Linked DNA regions of Homo sapiens: region 2 is linked to region 1. A link means that fine-mapping ties the variant in region 1 to the expression of a gene that starts in the linked region. Tissue or cell type: thyroid. Region 1 holds a variant in brackets; the other region holds the start of a gene. All regions are shown on one strand. Distances are from middle to middle.

Region 1 (10,307 bases):
TATGGCTGCACAGTATTCCATCATGCATATGCACCACATTTTCTGTACCTAGTTCATCATTGCTGGCCACTATGTTGATTCCATGTCTTTGCTATTGTGAATAGTTCTGTGATGAACACAGGGGAGTGCATGTGTCTTTTGGTAGAATGATTTATATTCTATTGGGTATATACCCAGTAATTGGATTACTGGATCAAATGGTAGTTCTAGTTTTAGTTCTTTGAGAAATCTGTAAACTGCTTGGACTGTTTTCCCATTTGCTTGTTTCATCTCTGATTTCCTTTAGCAGTTTTGTAATTCTCATTGTAGAGACCTTTCACCTCCCTGGTTAGCTGTATTCCTAGGAATTTTAACCTCCCTGGTTAGCTATATTCCAAGGAATTTTAAATTAGTTCACAGTGGCTGAACTAATTTATATTCCCACCAGTAGTGGGAATATAAATTAAGCGTTATCTTTTCTCTGCAACCTTGACAACATCTGCTATTAATAATAGCCATTCTGACTGGTGTGAGAGGGTATCTCATTGTGATTTTGATATGCATTTCTATAATGAGTAGTGATGTTTAGGATTTTTAAAATATGCTTGTTGCTTGCATGTATGTCTTCTTTTGAGAAGTGTCCATGTCCTTTGCCCATTTTTTAATGGGGTTGTTTTTTGCTTGTTGATTTAAGTTCTTTGTTGATGCTAGGTATTAGACCTTTGTCAGAAGGGTAGATTTGCAGATATTTTCTCCCATTCTATAAGTTGTCTGTTTGCTCTGTTGATAGTTTCTTTTTCTATGCAGAAGCTCTTTAATTAGGTCCCACTTGTCAATTTTTGTTTTTGTAGAAATTGCTTTCAGAGGCATCATACAATGTTTGCCAACACTATGTTCAGAATGGTATTTTCTAGGTTCTCTTCCAGATTTTTTATAGTTTTAGGTTTTGCCTTTAAGGCTTTGATCCATCTTGAGTTAATTATTGTATATGGTAAAAGGAAGTGGCCCAGTTTCAATCTTCTGCATATGGGTAGCCAGCTATTCCAGCACCGTTTATTGAATAGCAAATCCATTCTCCAGTTGCTTGTTATTGTCAACTTTGTCAAAGATCAGTTGGTTGTAGGTGTGCCGCTTTATTTGGGGGTTCTCTATCCCGTTCCATTGGTCTATGTGTCTGGGTTTTGTTGTTGTTGTTGTTGTTGTTTTATTCTGTTTAGTTTTGTTTTTTTACCAGTACCATGTTGTTTTGGTTACTGTAGTTTTATAGTATAGTTTGAAGTTGAGTAATGTGATGCCTCCACCTTTGCTCTTTTTGCTTTGGACTTTTGTGGCTATTCAGGCTCTTTTTTGTTTTAATATATATTTTAGAATAGTTCTAATTATATGGAAAATCATGTTGGTAGTTTGATAGGAATAGCATTGAATCTGTAAATTGCTTTGATTAGTATGGCCATTTTACAATATTGATTCTTCATAACTATGAGCTTGGAATGTTTTTCCATTGACTTGTTTCATCTCTAATATCTTTCAGAATTTTGTAATTCTCATTGTAGAGATCTTTCACCACCTGGTTAGCTGTATTCCTAGGAATTTTATTCATTTTGTGACTATTGTGAATGGGGTTGTGGTCTGGATTGGGTTCTCAGCTTGGATGTTATTGGTGAATAGAAATGCTATTAATTTTTGTACACTGAGTTTATATCCTGAGACTTTACTGAAGTTTATCAGTTTTAGGAGCCTTTGGGCAGAAACTGCGGGGTTTTCTAGGTATAGAATCATATAGTCTAAAGACAGGTAGTTTGACTTCTTCTCTTTCTATCTGAATGCTTTCTATTTGTTTCTCTTGCCTGACTGCTCTGGCAAGGACTTCCAGTACTATGTTGAATAGAAGTAGTGTGAGAGGGCATTCTTGTTTTGTTCTGGTTCTCAAGGGAAATGCCTCCAGCTTTTACCCATTCAATATGATGTTGGCTGTGGTTTTGTCATAGATGGCTCTTATTTTGAGATAAGTTCCTCTGATGACTAGTTTGTGAGGGTTTTTAACATGAAAGGATGTTGAATTCTATCGAAAGCCTTTTCTGCATCTATTAAGATGATCATGTAGTTTTTATTTTTAGTTATGATTATGTGATGAATCACATTTATTTATGTTTGTTAAACCAAACTTGCATCCAGGAATCAATATTGCCTGCCTGACCGTGGTGGATTAGCATCTTAATGTGCTGCTGGATTTGATTTGTTAGTATTTTGCTGAGGATTTTTGTGTCTATGTTTATCAGGATACTTAGCACAAGTTTTCTTTTTTCTTTGTATCTCTGCCAGGTTTTGGTATCAGAATGATGCTGACCTCATAGAATGAGTTAGGGAGAAGTCCCTCCTCCTTGATTTTTTGGAATAGTTTTGTTGGTTTTGTACCAGCTCTTTCTTTTATGTCTGGTAGAATTTGGCTGTGAATCCGTATGTCCCAGGGCTTTTTCTTGTTGGTAGCTTATTACAGAATCAATTTTAGAACTCATTATTGGTCTGTTCAGGATTTCAGTTTCTTCCTGGTTCAATCTTGGGAGATGGTATGCTTCCTGGAATTTATTCTTTTTTTTTCTAGGTTTTTTAGTTTGTGTGCATAGTGGTGTTAGTAATAGTCTCTGGGAGCTTTTTGTATTTCTGTGGAATCAACAGTAATATCCCCTTTGTCATTTCTGATTGTGTTTATTTGGATCTTCTCTCTGTTTAAACTTAATCTAGCTAGTGGTCTATCAGTATTATTTCTTCTTTCAAAAAAACCAACTTATGGTTTTGTTGATGTTTTGAATGGATTTTTGTGTCTGAATTTTGTTCAGTTCAGTTCTGATTTAGGCAATTTGTTTTCTTCTACCTTTGGGTTAGGTTTGCTCTTGGTTTTCTAGTTTCTTTAGGTGTGGTGTTAGCTTATTAATTTGAAATCTTTCTAACTTCTTGATGTAATCATTTAGTGCTAGAAACTTTCCTCTTAACACTGCTTTACCTGTGACCCAAAGATTGTGGCATGTTGTATATTTGTTTTCATTAGTTTCAAATAATGTTTGGATTTCTACCTTCATTCTTTACCCAAAAGTAATTCAAGAGGAAGCTGTTTAATTTCCATGATATTGTATGATTTTGAGCAATGTTCTTGGTGTTGATCTCTGTTTTTATTGTGCTGTGGTCCAAGAGTGTGCTTGGTATGATTTGGGTTTATTTCAATTTGTTGAGAATGGCTGTATGGCCAAGGATGTTATCAATCTTGGAATATGTGCCGTGTGGAGATGAGACTATATATTCTGTTGTTGTTGGGGAGAGTATTCTGTAGATATCTATTAGGTCTATTTGGTCAAGTGTGAAGTTTAGGTCCCAAATATCTTTGTTAGTTTTCTACCTCAATTATCTGTGTAACACTGTCAGTGAGATGTTAAAATCTCCCACTATTACTGTGTGGTTATCAAAGTCTTTTCATAGGCCTCTGAGAAATTCTTTTATGAATCTGGGTACTCTAGCATTGGGTGCCTATATATTTAGTTTTGTTAAGCCTTCTTGTTGAATTGAACCTTTTATCATTATGTAATGCCTTTTTTGTCCTTTTTGATCATTGTTGGTTTAAAGTCTTTTTTTCTGAAATAAGAATAGCAGCTCTTCCTCTTGTTTGTTTTCCATTTGCTTGATAGATCTTTCTCCATACATTTACTTTGAGCCTATGGGTGTCTTCACATGTGAGATGAGTCTCTTGAAGACAGCGTACAGTTGAGTCTTGCTTGTTTCTTCAGCTTTCCACTCTTTGCCTTTTAACTGGGGGTGTTTAGCCTGTTTATATTGAAGGTTAATATTGGTATGTGAAGATTCAATTATGTCATGTTCTTAGCTGATCGTTATGTATACTCGGTTATATAGTTGTTTTTTAGTGTCAGTGGACTATGTACTTATGTGTGTTTTTGTGGTGGCAGATAAGGGTCTTTCATGTCCATGTCTACCAGTCCCTTTAGGACCTCTTCGAAGGCAGGTCTGGTGCTAATGAATTATCTTAGCATTTGTTTGTCTGAAAAGGATTTATTTTTCTCCTTTACTTATGAAGCATAGTTTGGCTGCATGTAAAATTCTTGGTTGGAATTTCTTTTCTTTACGGATGCTGAATATAGTTTCTTAATCTCTTCTGGCTTGTAAGATGTCTGCTGAAAGGTCCACTGTTAGCCTGATGGGGTTCCCTTGGTACATGACCTGCCTCCTCTCTAGCTGCATTTAGCATTTTTTTTTCATGCTGACTTTGGAGAACCTGATGACTATGTGTCCTGGGGATTGTCGTCTTGTATATTATCTCTCAGGGGTTCTCTGAATTTCCTGAATTTTCATATCAACCTCTCTGGCAATGTTGAGGAAATTTTCATGGACAGCATTCTCAAATATATTTTCCGAGTTGCTTGCTGTCACTCCACCTCTTTCAGCAATGTTAGCGAGTCATAGGTTTGCTCTCTTTACATTCTCACATATTTCTCAGAGGTTTTCTTCATTTTTAAGTGCTTTTCTTCCTTTATTTTTGTGTGCCTGTATTGAATTGAAGGAGTGGTCTTTGAGCTCAGAGATTCTTTCCTCAGCTTGGTCTATTCTGTTATTAATGCTTCTAATTGCATTCCGAAATTCCTGTGGTGAATTTTTTATTTCCAGTTCTGTTTGGTTCTGTCTGAAAATTGTTGTCGTTCAACTGTTGGACCATTTTACTGTTTTCCTTGGATTAGGTTTCAACCTCATTCTGAATCTTGAGCTTCTGTGCCATCCAGATTCTGAATTCCATGTCTGTTGTTTCAGCCATTTCAATCTGGTGAAGAAACATTGCCGGGGAGCTAGAGCAGTCATTTGGTTGTAAGAAGACACACTGGCTTTTAGAGTTACCAGAGTTGTTGTGCTGGTTCTTTCTCATCTGTGTGGGCTGATGTTACTTTAATCTTTGACATCGCTATCTTTTGGATGGGGCTTTTTGATTTTATATTCTTTGATGCCCTTGCGAGTTTGACTGTGGTATAAGCTGGGCTCAGTCAGTTCACTTTATTTCTGGAAGATTTCAAGGGATAAAGGCTCAGCTCAGCACCCAGGGGCTGCATGCTCTAACCCTGGGGGGCTAGGACCAGTCCCATGGCTTTGTTCTCTGGCCCCTCAAGTTTAAGTACCTGCTGTGCTGGAGGGGCCAAGGTGTTCTCAGTCCACTGGTAACGACACTCCAGTGGGGGCTGCTAGCCAAAGTGCTCTTGCAGAGTGATGGTAAGTACGTAAGTGCAC[A/G]TGCATGTATGTGCTGGCAAGATAGCAGGGGGAGTCTACAGGTAGGTGCATGCTGGCGGGGGAAGGCTGCAGGTGGGTGTACACGGTGGGGGGAGGCTGCTGGTGGGTGCATGCTGGCAGGGGAAAGCTGTGGGTGGGTGTGCACTGGTGGGGTTTATCTGCAGAAGTGCTCTGATGGTCAGACGGGCTCTGCTGGTGAGAGGGCTGGGGCTGTGGCCACTGATGAGAGCCTTGGCAGCTGTTGCTGTGCTGCAAGTGGGTGCATCCAGGCGGGGAGCCCAGGAGAGGCCAGCAGTCAGAGGGGCGTTCAGATCAGACTGGCTGCATCCCAGGAGCCGGCCAGCCGTGCTCTCTCCTGGTCCCACAGCTAACAAAGCCTAAAGCCACCTAGAGGAGTGTGGCAAGCCTTGGGGGACGGGTGCCCATGGCTGAGCTCCACTGCAGCCGTTCCCACACCAAATCTTCTGGAGTTCTGTCTGCCAACTCCTTGGGCACTTCTCCCTGCCAGCTCAGAGGTCTGTGGGGGTCATTGAGTCTCCCATAGGTGGGATCGGGGAGATCCATGTGAAGAGTGGGCCACTCCATGCCTGTTTCCCTTAGTCCTCCCCTAGGAGTCACTCAAGGCCAATAACAAGTCCTGGTGCCCAGCAACCCTGTCCAGGGTTCCCACCTTCCTCCCCTTTCAGCCAGGGATCTGTGTCCTCACTGTCCACTTTGAAAGCCTTTTTTCCAAGGATCTGTTCACAGTGTGCAGGTCTATGCCATGGGCTGGTCTCTGTGAGAAGCGCTTCCCGTGTGCATGGAGCCAGCCATCTTGGCTCTTCTCCGCGGTGCTGCATTTTTTAAAGAGTGACTACTGTTCAGGGTGGGGAGAAGAAGTACTTTGAAACAATTAGTGGGTGGATGACATTTCTCTTTCTTCTACAAGATGACTAAAAGTTTAAAATATTAAAGAAAAATATCATTGTATAAGAAGGGCTGCTTGAAAGAATGGTTTGACCAGGGTTGTTGATCTTCACTTTCTCTTTTTTAAAAATATGACATTAAGAATTGTAAGTGCCTTAAACACTAGAGACATACGCACTGATTTGTGTTCCCACAGCAAGATTTCTGAAAGGGAAGAGCAAGACTTGTCTGCCACTGTGGGCCCCTGCAGCCATTATGGAGGGTTCTGTGATGACTGTTTGGTTTTCCCTAAGGGAAGTGGGATAATCAACCTGTCGGAATCTCAAGGATAAAAACAATTGAATAGTAGGCAGAGATTTATTAAGCACCCATATGCTCTATATGTGTATATTTATTGAGCATCTATATGTTCTGTTCTCTAGCAAACAATGTGTGAGATGGAGAAAAACAGAAGACATACTCCTTGTTGTTAAAAACAATAAGGATATTTTCTCAACCTTAATTATTTTACCTTATTAATTTTGACTTCTCATTGTTTCCCCTTGATGTGGATTAATATGAAGGCAGATTCAAGTTAAGCAATGAATCAAAACGATATTCTTTGAGCGTACGATATGTTTGTGGCATCGTGGCAGACAGAATTTAAACCACATGGATGATTAAGATAGGTTTTCTCCTCTCAAAGGAGCCATTGTCTAAGAGGAATTGCAAGAAAATGACAGATAATGAAAATATCTCTTATTTTAGCATTTACCTGGCATTCGTGGCACATTTAATGTGGGTCAGGAAGAGGGAATATCAGGATGAGTAAGGCACAGTTCTCTCATATAAGAGACATAATTGACATGCGTATTTGTAACTACCGTCAAGTAGGAAAAATTTTCACTGTCATATCCCAAGCACCAAGAACAGAGCCTGCTTGGCAGATAGAAAGCATCTTAAATAATTATTGAATTAATACATATTTATGTACAAGTTCATTTTTAAAGGTACTTTCACATTCAGGTGTTTATTTCATCTCAAAACTATTGTGTGAAAGAGTAGACCAGAAATTAATAAAATATAGAATACAAAAAATGATAGAAAAAAATCAATGAAACTGTAACTTTATTATTTGAAAAACTCAACAAAATTGTTAAGCCTTTTATTAACTCATAAGGAGAAAAAAAGAGATGACTGAAATTACTAAAATCCAGAATGAAAAGAGAGATTACTACTAACCTTACAAGAATAAAATGAATTATAGTGTCTATAATAGTTGAAGAACTGTTAAAATTCAACAACACAAAAGCCTAATTTTAAAATGAGCAAGGGGACTGGATGGACATTCTCCAAGGAAGATATACAAATGGTCAACAAGCACGTGATAAGATGCTTAAAACTATGAGTCCCTGGGGAGATGCGAGTCAAAACCGCAGTGAACTGCTCCCCCACATCTGCTAGGATGGCTGTTGGTGACAAAATTAATCGGAAGCAAAGTGACAAGAGTTAGCAAGGATATGGACAAACTGAAATCCTCATATGTTGCTGTTGGAAATGTAAAGTTATTTAGCCATTGTGGAAAAGAGTTTAAGTTTTCACTATCCACAAAAACTTAAAATGGAAAAGAATGCCATCCTGCCTGTGTGCCCAAAAGAGCTGGAAATAGGTGCCCAAACCAGTGCGGGAGCGTCCATGCTCACAGCAGTGCTTGCATGATAGCCGAAGGGGAACCACCTGGATGTCCACAGGGGTGGATGGATAAGCACATGCCATATGTACAGACAACGGAACATTTCTCAGTTATGAACACGAGTGAGGGATTGGTAGATGTTACAGCGGAGGAAGGACCTCAGAAACCTTATGCTCAGTGAAAGAAGCCAGACAAAAAATGTCACATATTCTGTGATTTCACATCAATGAAATATCCATAACTGGTAAATCCACAGATACAGAACACCGAGGTAATTGCCAGCGGCAGAACAGAGAGGAGAATGGGGAACGGTCACTTACTAGGGTGGGGTTTCCTTTTGGACTGATGAAAAACGTCTTGAAACTGGACAGAGCTGGTTGAACAACACGTGAATGTATTAAATGCCACTACATGGATCCCGTCAAAATGGTTAATTTTATGTTTTTAATTATACCTCAGCTTTAAAAATTAAAATCATATGCAAGTATCATGAACACTTTTAAGCCAATAAATTTGGTATCTTAGGTGAAATGAACAAATTTCTACTAGGTACATACTACCAAAAATAAGAAGAAATACTGGGGAGCTCTTGGTCCAAGGACAGAACATCTCAGTTAGACTGAAGGACTAAGTTCAAGACATCTATTGTGTATTGTGGTGAATGCAGTTTATAATATATTGTATAAATCAAAATTGCTAAGGAGTAAATTTTCAGTTCACACCACAAAAAAGTTTAAGCAGGTTGATTTAGCCATTCCGTAATGTATGCATATATCAAAACATCATGCTGTATGCTGTAAATATATATATAATTTTTCCTTTTCATTTTTAATATTTTAGAAAGATATTTTTACAAGGTGGTGATTTCATTTCTCATAGGTATATATGCATATATATGGTATATATGGAAGAGGAATTGCTGAGTCATATATCTAATAAGGGGGTAATATCCAAAATTTATAAAGAACTTATATAATTAAATAGCAGAAAAATAAATAGCTCAGTTTAAACCATGGGCATTCTGTTATAAAGATGCATGCGCACGTATGTTCAGTGAAGCACTGTTCACAAGAGCAAAGACACAGAATCAACGCAAATGTCCATCAATGATAGACTGGATAAAAAAAATGCGGTGCACCATGGAATACTATGCAGCCATGAAAAGGAATGGGACCATGTCCTTTGCAGGCGCATAGATGAAGCTGGAAGCCATTATCCTCAGCAAACTAACACAGGAAAAGAAAACAAAACACTACATGTTCTCACTTATAAGTGGGAGCTGAACAATGAGAAGGTATGGACACAGGAGGGAGGAGAACAACACACACAGGGGCCTGTCAGGGGGCAAGGGGGAGGGAGAGCATCAGGATAAATAGCTAATGCATGTGGGGCTTAATACCAAGGTTGATGGGTGCAGCAAACCACCATGGCACACATTTCCCTATGTAACAAACCTGAATGTCGTGTACATGTATCCTGGAACTGAAAAAATAAATGAAATATGGGCAAAGGACCTGAGTAGATATTCTCAGAAGATGATATAAAAATGACCAACATGGTTTTGATTTGCATTTCCCTGAGGATTAGTGATGTTGAGCGCTTTTCACACAACTGTTGAACGTTTGTGTAATCCTCAGTAAACATCAGTAATCCTCAGGGAAATGCAAATCAAAATCACTGAGATACCACCTCATGCCCACCAAATAGCATAGCTATGAAAAGAGAGAGGAGATAACAAATGTTAGTGCAGAGAAAAGGGAACCCCCACACTTCAGCAGGAAAGTAGATTTGTGCAACAATTATGGAAAACAGTATCGACGTTCCTAAGGAAAGTAAAAATAGAATTACCCTATGACCCTGCAACCTGTCTTCTGATTGTACCCAAAGGGAACAAAATCACCACCTCGGAAATATATCTGCACTCCCTGTTCACCTGTTCATTGCAGCGTATTTCACAATAGCCGAGATACAGAAATGACCTGAGTGTCCTTCAACAAATGAATGGGTAAGGAAACTGTGAGATATATATATATATATATATAGTATAGATATATATTATCCATTCATTTTTAAGAGTGTTATATATATATTTGTTTTATACACACACACAGAATGGGATATTATTCAGCCTTATAAAAATAAGATCCTTATGTAATGCCTTTCTTTTTCTCCTTTTCGATCATTGTTGGTTTAAAGTCTGTTTTTATTTTTTTTTTCTGAAATAAGAATAGCAACTCTTCCACTTGTTTGTTTTCCATTTGATTGATAGATCTTTCTCCGTACATTTACTTTGAGCCTGTGGCTGTCTTCACATGTGAGATGAATCTCTTGCAGGCAGCCTACAGTTGAGATTTGCTTCTTTTCTTTTCTTTTTTTTTTTTGATGGAGTTCTGCTCTGTCGCCCAGACTGGAGTGCAGTGGCACAATCCTGGCTCACTGCAAACTCCACCTCCCAGGTTCAAGCAATTCTCAA
Region 2 (8,996 bases), 480 kb before region 1:
TCCAACACACAGTTCTCAGTAAGCATGTAACACACTAAGGCCTCCCAGAAGTGTCATCCAATTGCTGGGCCAAACTTGGGGGTCATTGGTGACTCTCCTCTTCCTCTCTTCCTGAATAACCCATCCAGAAAAATCACATCAAGCGCATTCTACTTGCAACGTGTCTTACTTCCACTGCTGAGTTTGTGTTTTCATCATTTGTCACTAGGATTTCTCCAGCCTTTTTTAAGTTGATCTCTGAAATCCCAGGATTTCTCCGAGCATTTTTAAAATGATCTCAATTCCACTCTTGTTCCTCACTCCCATCCTACCGACATTTCTTCTTATAGCAGCCAAAATGGTCATTTTAAAACCTCACTGCCATTCAAAAATCACTGAAGGTGGACCATCCAGCAACAGGATAGGGAAGAAAAACCACACAATCACATCATTAGATGCAGACAAAGCATTTGACAAAATCCAACACCCATTCATGATTTAAAACCGAAACACCCTCAGCCAACTATGATTAGAGGGTAACTTCTTCAGTTTGATAAGGGACACCTACAAAAACCCTAGAGCTAACAGCATACTAAATGGTGAGAAACTAGAAGCCTTTCCCACTAAGATCAGGAAGAAGGCAAGGCCCCCCCCTCTTGCCACTGCATCTCACTGTTACACTGCAATTCCTGGCCAATGCAATGAGACAAGAAAAGGAAATACAAGGTATACAGATTGGGAAGGGAGAAATAGAAGTTTTCTCTGCAAATGACAGGATTGTCTATGAAGAAAATCTCTGCCTTGCTCAAAATCCTACATCATAATTCATTGTATAGAGGATACAAATCAAAGCCCTTAAAATGTCCTGAAAGACCCCTGAGTTTTTCTCCCGTCACAATCATGTGGTCCTTTTCTCCCTCAGTTGCAGTTATTCTGACTGTTCAGTTAAACGAAAATGTGGCCAGGCATGGTGGCTCATGCCTGTCATCTTAGCACTTTGGGAGGCGGAGGCAGGAGGATCGCTTGAGCATGGGAGTTGGAGATTAGTCTGGGCAACATAACAAGCCCCTGTGTCTACTAAAAATACAAAAAGTTAGCCAGGCATGGTGGCACATACCTGTAGTCTCAGCTACTCAGAAAGCTGAGGTGGGAGAATCACCTGAGTCAGGGAAGTTGAGGCTGCAGTGAGCCGTGACAGCACCACTGTACTCAAGCCTGGACAACAGGAGTGAGACCCTGTCTTAGAAAAGAAAAAAGGCCAGGTACAGTGGCTCACGCCTGTACTCCCAGCACTTTGCGAGGCCGAGGCGGGTGGATCACGAGGTCAGGAGATCGAGACCATCCTGGCCAACATGGTGAAACCCCGCCTCTACTAAAAATACAAATACAAATAATAATAATAATAATGATAATAATAATAATAATAATAATAATAATAATAATAGCAGGGCATGGTGGTGTGCACCTGTAATCCAGCTACTCGGGAGGTTGAGGCAGGAGAATCGCTTGAACCAGGGAGTCAGAGGTTTCAGTGACCTGAGATAGTGCCACTGCACTCCAGCCTAGTGACAGAGTGAGACTCCGTCAAAAAAAAAAAAAAAAAGGCATCAAGTCCTTCTATCTCCCAAGGTCTTCAGGCCTGCTCTTATCTCCCTAAATCCTGTTCCCAGGGCCATGGCAGAGGCCACCTCTGATGCCACCCTCAATGTGCTCTCAGGTCCCCGTGCACTCCCCTGCTGGTTGGCCTCTGGACTTTCTTTGAAGCTTTGGGAGGTGCTCAACTTGGGGAGTGGGGTGTGTGGGTGAGGAGCAGCCCTCAGTCACTGGGACCTAGAAGCTGAAAAGCTGTCCAGCCTTCCTAAGCTGACGTGCACTCCAAGCTGCTCCTGTTAGAGCACCCCAGCAGGACGGGGCCCCGGTGGCCACAGGAGCAGCCCAGCGTCACCGCAGCCTCTGGGACGTCCTCTCCTGCCCTGCCTCTCTCTCCCTACTTCCTCTCTCTAGTTTCCTGGGATCGATCTCCCAAATGAACTACCTGCACCCAAATCCACACCTCAAAACCTGCTTGTGGGAGAACCCAGGGGGAGATTTAATAACGACGTCCTCAAAAAGTTCTTTTCTGATGTCACAAACTGTATTTGTTGCCCTTTTCACATTCACCAATAACACTCCATATGTTTCCTTCAGAGAATTATAACTTGTAATTGTCTGTTCCTTGGGTAACTTCTGGGCGGATCCCTCTCTAGACTGAAGGCTTCATGGGGCGGCAACCGTGGTTTTCTGTGCTGCTCACACGCTGAGAACACAGGAGAGGCCGTCAGTACATTTGTGTGATTTTCTTGTTGCGGTTGCATGAAATAATATATATATATATTTTTAAAAAACGTGAAGGGATGGGGACGAAATGCAGGGGAGGAAAGCAAAGGGAAAGTAAATTGTGAAATGAAAATAAATTGGCCTGGAATCTCTCCCTAGTTGAGGTTTGGGCGCTGAATGCACCTTTTTTTTTTTTTTTTTTGACAGTGGAGACCACTGATAGATTCGGGAAACATTTAGAAGAAATGGACAGCGGCCGGACTTCTTTCTCCCATTCACCTTTCTACCCCCTCGTCGTTTAGCACTCTGCCTTGAAAATAAACTGCAACTGATGAATATTTTGGTGATCAATTATACGGGGAATTCTTACAGAGCCTGTTTTTTGTTTAAAGATCTTGGAATTTCTGGAAAAGATTGGTTTGTCCATTCCAAATATTTTGGATGACCTGATTTCATTCTAACTCCCATCCGTCTTTCTATGCGGTTTGTTTTCGCATCTTTTACCTCATTTAAATGCCGTAGCCATGCAGGTGGAAAGCAGAAATCCATTTCTGCGTTTATGTTAAACTGGGGCTGAGAGACTTGCCCAGGGTCGGTGACCGCCCAGGGATCCCCATACCAGCGCGTCTAGCTCCCGCGTTCCGATCCCGGAAGGGAAAACCCATGATCCTGGCGAGGGTCCGTCCACACGTGGCCAGGGTGGCTGATCTTCCCGGCTGCTGTGGTTGTCAACACCACTTCTCCGGATCGATTTTCCCTTTTCCTCGGCTCTGTCGTCCATACGCCACTCACAGCAAACCCAGGCGGCGGGCCCCCTCCGAGGGCGCTCCTTGCGTCCGGACCCAGGTTCTCGGGGCGCCCCCCGGTGGGTCCCCGCGAAGCCGCCGCCGCACACCTTCCTCAGCGTAGCCCGCCAGTGGAAACCGGGGGAGGTTCTGCCTCCAGCACCCAAGCGGCGGCCGCACCTCGCAGTGAGACCCTCGCAAGCGCCCGCGCCTCCCTCGCCCCGCGTCCCCTCTGCCCCGCGAGCCCCCCTGGGCGCCGAGCCGACTCGAACCCGAGCGCGAGTCCCGCGCACAAACGCGCCGGCGCGTCTCTAACAGCGGTCCAGAAAGGCTGACCCTGCCCGGGGGCGACGGGTGTGACCGGGTCCCCCGCTAACTTTCGGGCGCGGTGAGCGTCGCCTGCGCGCGCCGCGGTGGAGGCCGCTGCTTTCCCGCCGGGAGCCCGGCACAGTCCCCGGGTGACCCGCGCGCCCCGCGCAACAGTTGGAGCCGGGCTGCCCGCGCGCTCCCCAAGCCGGGCCCTTCCCCAGATGCAGCCGCGCGCCGGCCGCCCCCCAGTGCGCCGGTGCCTCCCTGGGCGCCGAGTGCGCAGGCGCCGGCCGTGAAGACCGACCGTGCGCCGGGCTCGAGCGCGGTCTGAGCGCGCGGCGCCTGCGGCGGCGAACGGACGGACGGACCGCGGACGGACGTACTGACCCCAACCCGCGAGCCCCGGGAGCCGTCGGTCTGAGGAGGGGCCGCTTCGCCATGTCGCCCCGCACCTGCTGAGCCCGGAGCGTCCGAGGATGTCCGCGCTGAGGAAGGTGCGAGCCGCCGGGGGCTGCCGGGAGCCGGGCGCGGGGCTCCGAGAGCCGTCGAGGCGGGGAGGGCGCGGTGTGTCGGACCCGCGGGGACGCCCCGAGGGCGTCAGGGTTGGGGGCGGGGGCGAGCGGGGGTCGTGCCGCCCGCCGGGGCCGGAGCGCTGGGGACCCCAGGGACAGCCTGTGCTCGGGGGTCGCGCGTTGCGCTCCTCGCCGGGCTCCGCGCATCCCTGGCCGCGCTCGGGGGTGCCGGGACCCTGGGCTCCGGGGGTGCGGGAGCGCACGGGGCCGCGGAGGTGTGAAATTCTCCGCTCTGCCTGCCCGGGGTGGAGGGGGCAAAGCCTGGGGGGTGCCGGCGCGCCAGGGGCTACGCGCCTAGCTCCGGTGGGGCAGCTGCGAGCGAGTGGGGGCGGCGGGCAGCAGACTGCATCCCCCTCCCCCCAAGCCCGGGTGGAAACGCCGACGGGGACTGGGAATGAATGAAGGGTGCCGGGCTGGGCTGCGCGCACGGGGGCTCGCGGGGGCGGGGGCGACCAGGATGGGGCCCTTGTGCCGGGCAGCAGCGGCTGCCGAGACCAGGCGGAGTGGAGGGTGCGCGCAGCGAGGGGGTGGCCGCCGCCCGGCTCTCCAAGTGCGAGCGAGGAGCTCGGGGTCTTTTTTAGGGGTGGTTGCTAAGCGAGGCGCTACCCAGCGCAGGGTTTTGTAACTAAGCCTCCCCCGGCAGCGGCTGTTGCTGTCTCCGGCTCCTTCGCTAACGATTGCAGGAGAAATAATGAGGATGTAATTATTACAGCCCTGCGCGGAGGGCTGGGGGGCGGCGGACGCGGGCTCCTCTGCCTGCGCGCCCAGGTGGGGCTGGGCTGGGCTGGGCTGGGCTGGGCTGGACTGGACGCCTCTCCCCGCCCGGCCCTCCCTCAGCGCGCGGCGTGTGCGGTGCCCGAGGCTTCGGAGCAGGCTGGACCTGGGAACCCGGGGAGGGGCCTGGAGGAGAGATAGCTGGGCGAGGTGGGCGCCGGCGAGAAGGCGGAGCCCCCGGACAGCGTAGGTTCGCAGGTGGAGAGCGGACGCGGGGGCGAGGGTGCGCGGCGGGTCTGCGATGCGCGTCGGAAACTCGCGGCCCCCGGTCCCGGCCCTGCGCGCTTGGAGCCCGGGTCCTTCCAGCCCCTGCGCGACGCCGCCGCCGCCGCCGCCGGTGAATGGCGATCCCGGCCACGGCCTGGAATTGGAAATTCGTGACTTGTCGGCGGCCCCGGTCTTCTATCGATTAAAGATAAAGCGATCAGCAGTGAATTTATCCTTCGTGTGGATGAACTCGGCCAGCCCGGGCTGTGGGGGGTTTGGGAACTGTAAATATTCTCCAAAGCGCCGCCGCTTCTCCCGTCTTCCCGGACTCGAGGCTGGAGGCAGCTCCGGCGACGCGAAGGGGGGTACCCCCCGGAGAGGTCGGGCCTGGGGCGCGGCGGACAGAGACCCGGTCCCAGAGCCTGGCGGAGCCCGACAATCCGCCCTGTCAGGAGGAATCTCATCAACAGCCCGTGAATTAATTGTCCTTGCAGTTGGGAAATAACCCGGTACCTCGGCGTAGCCCGAGGGAGTCCAGGAGGCTCTCCAAGGAGCCTTCCCCCGGGTCGCGAAGCTGCGCTAAACCCCGGCCCCAGCGCACCTTGGAAGGCGCATTTTGGCCTGAGGTGAACGCACCTTACACCATTTTCATTTTACTTCCTTTTCTCTGAGAAAGGTAATAGATAACCAAGGCCAAAAATGGCGAAATGATGAAAAAATGGTAATTCTTGGCAGGTCAAGTTGTTACTCTGGGTTTAAAAAAATGTCATTAATCAGGATTTTCCAGTAGCCAAATTGTCTTGTGCCGGCAGCTGGGTGACTCACAGATTTGGCTCCAATAGTAATTGTAGAGTGTGCGTACCATTTCCTTCTGGATGGTGTGACTTTTTCATTGCTTGGAAGAGAACACATTAGAATATTTTATCCCCTACATCTGGCAGCATGTGGAGCAGGCTGTAGGCAATACTCTGTCCAAGCACATCTGGGCGGGGAGGCCGTGGAGGGACCGAGGTGACACAGAGCCGGCCCTGTCCTCGGTTCTGTCTCGGGTCACCTGAGGCATCTTCACCGCGGCAGCTCGGGCGCGTGGGATCTGCTCTCAGTGATGACCTGGGACGCATCCTGCCTCTGTGCGCCATTCCTGCCCCTTCACTGTCACTCCTTGGTGATCGCCCGTGTTCTTGGGTAAGCAGTGGAGAGGCACAGAATGGCTTCCTCTGTTGATCTACCGCGTCAAATCTGTATATTATAATTTCAGGTTAAAGGGTAAGAGTTGTAAGCAAAATGAGTACTACGTCAAATAATTCAAAGGAACGAAGTAATTAAAAGTAAAGCTTTCTCAGCACGAAGATGTTTTCTCAGATAAGCATTCTAAGTCAACTTTTCATAGTATTCAATGTCTATTTGTTATTCTTCGAAAGAACTTTGCACTTATGATTGTCCAAAGTGGTACAGCTTGAGACAGAAATAAACATGTATTTATTTACCAACTTTTTGTATGCCTTTTGTTACTTGTGATTTAAATGGGTTAATTCGATTTTTAGTTTTGTAGAATTCAGATCACATGACATTATTTCTCCCCAGTGACATACATGCCCTTCTGTGGCAATCTATTGCTTCTCTTATTTGTGTCTACTTATTTCAGTTTTGAAATTGGTAGAAATTCCAAATTAAATATTAAAAGCAAAAATAGGCTTCGTGGAATTTAAATTACATTGGATTCTGTGTACCCAGAACCCAACTAATTCTGAAACTAAAGTGCTCTAATATCTTTTTAAGGGTGAGAGGATTTTGTTTTGTTTTATTTTGAAGATATCATCTTCCATAATGTTGAAATTGAAGAAATGCTATAATTTTTTTATTATATAACTGTATTTGAGGAAAAGCTTCATGACTCCTCAGTTATCCAAGGAGTTGAATGATGTATACTTTGATTATAGATTTTAAAATGAAGTTGATTAAATATTCTATTTATTGACCCTCAGGATGGATGCTCCATGGTCATTCATTGGATACAATAAAAATAACTATGATTCATCATTTTGGCCAGATGGGAGTCATATTTAGAGCATTGCCATCATGTTGGTTATAAAAGAATTACAGGCTGCCATACAGGAAGTTAGTAGGCACACTTTCTATGCAGTTAAAAATTATTCTTAATCAACCGTAGTTTTACCAACTAGTTTTCATCATACGAGGCTTTCTAGTGCCACTAACTTCTTCAATATGTTTTGTTGTTTCCTGGGTACTTGTGCGTACAAAAACTGAGCATAGTGATTTCACGTGTGCTCATGACAAAAGACTTTAATTTCTAGGGAAGTTAAGCAGATGGGCTTTGGCATTGACCAGGCATGGGGTCGTAGGGTGTGCAAACTCTAGTTTAAATCTTGCATCTACTGGTAGCCACCTTTCCCTTCCAAGGCTTAACAGCAGTAACAAATTAATCTCCTCAGCAAAGGCAGTAGGAGCTCATTTGTAAAGCTCTGTTTTTCTTTTTTCATGTCATTCTTCTGTGCACTGACTTCATCTGCCTATGAAAATCTTCTCCCAGTCCTCAGGTCATGGGCCTTGACATGCAGTCCCTTAACTTTAGCTCCAGGAGAGGGGCCTGGGTGTTCTGACATCCCGGTGATGGGTGTCCGCTGCAGGTGCACCTCTCCTGACTTGATGGCAGTGTCTTCATGTGGGATGTCAGTTGCCTTAGTTCTGGAAGTGTCCTGTCTGTATTTATTGGCGGGCCTTCAGGAGTTGAGCTTTCTAGACCCGTTACTGCAGACTCCAGTGTATTTGCAGTTCAGTGTACGCTTCCCTTTCCAGGCAGCAGCCAGCTCCCCTTAGGGAACACCTGCCACCTCATGGGGTTGGCTTGGCGGACCCTACTTCCCGTCAGAGGTGGCTCCTGACTGGCCGGAGCCCTAACTCCCTCTCAAGAGCAATTGGATGAGTGAAGAGCGGGAACTTTCAAGGAGAGGAAAGCTTTAGGAAAAACAGCGGGAAAGGTGTAAGGCCTGCAGTTGTGGCATCAGTGCACAGCCTTGCAGGGATGGCCTGTCTGGAAATGACACCTTCCTCATCTGTCTGTGGAGGAGAAGGGCGGCTGTTATGCAGAGAGCTTGGTCCTGAGGATGCTGTTGGAAGCTCTGAACTAAGTTATGCCTGAACCATCATTACCCCGTGACTTTCAGTTACATAAACCAGGAGATTGTTTCTTTGAACTGAGTTTTCTGTCCCTGACAAGCAAATGGGATGTATGGGCTTTTAGTTTCTTCAGACATTTCCACATTAAACCTCTTGTTGCAGGGAAAGGCTTATTCATCTTCGGGTACTGTTTCTTATATGGTACATCGTGTGTATCGGCAGGAAAAAAAGAGAAAAATTTAAATCAACCATTTTAAACAATGAATAAACATTTGGAAATAGCCCATCTGTAAACTTGTGTTAAAAATTTTTAAAGTAACCTGTGAATCTGACTGATCGTTGTCTTTAAAATGTTTCATACTCTGTACAAAAGAAGAAAAATGGGAATGATCTCAAGGGTCCATAGAGTATGTATTTTAAGTTAGGCGGTATTGAAAAACATCCTTTTGTGTGTAACGAATGTTTGTCCTGTGACTTTTGCACAGCATTGCAAGTGGCTTTTTAGAGACAGGGTCTCCCTCTGTCACCCAGGCGGGAGTGCACTGGCATGATCATAGCTAACTGCAGTCTTGACCTCCTGGGCACGAGTGATCCTCCCACCTCAGCCTGTCTAGTAGTTGGTGTATGTCACCGCACCCAACTAATTTTTACTTTTTTTTTTTTTGGTAGAGACGGAGGTCTTGCAGTGTTGCCCAGGCTGGCCTTAGATTCCTGTCCTTAAGGAATCCTCCTGCCCTGGCCTCCTCAAGTGCTGGGATTACAGGAGTGAGTCACTTTTCCCAGCTGCATTTGGCTCTTTATTTGACCTCACCGTATTTCAGTTTTCTCATCACTAAGAGTGGGGCCAATGCAATATTAACTTGATAGGGTTAAGGAGGATTAAATGAATTCATGACTGTAAAGTGATAAGAATGGT

The links. PIP is the estimated chance that this variant, and not a neighbour inherited with it, causes the effect.
Region 2: DLGAP2 starts here. The variant in region 1 is fine-mapped to the expression of DLGAP2 in thyroid (GTEx, PIP above 0.99).

What each region holds. Positions count from the first base shown.
Region 1 is chr8:1,217,299-1,227,605 of GRCh38, forward strand. All of the region lies in intron 2 of DLGAP2 (DLG associated protein 2), which reads left to right. Among named protein-coding and RNA genes, the nearest start is that of DLGAP2-AS1, 400 kb to the right of the region's middle. The variant A/G (reference allele first, on the strand shown) is at 5,257.
Region 2 is chr8:733,943-742,938 of GRCh38, forward strand. DLGAP2 (DLG associated protein 2) reads left to right here and starts at 3,686. Exons shown (of 15, transcript NM_001346810.2): 1 at 3,686-3,883. The coding sequence starts at 3,866. It overlaps LOC124902044 (a long non-coding RNA gene), which reads right to left and starts at 3,088. Exons shown (of 2, transcript XR_007061156.1): 1 at 2,915-3,088; 2 at 2,092-2,275. It overlaps LOC401442 (a long non-coding RNA gene), which reads left to right and starts at 4,606. Exons shown (of 1, transcript NR_134292.1): 1 at 4,606-6,432.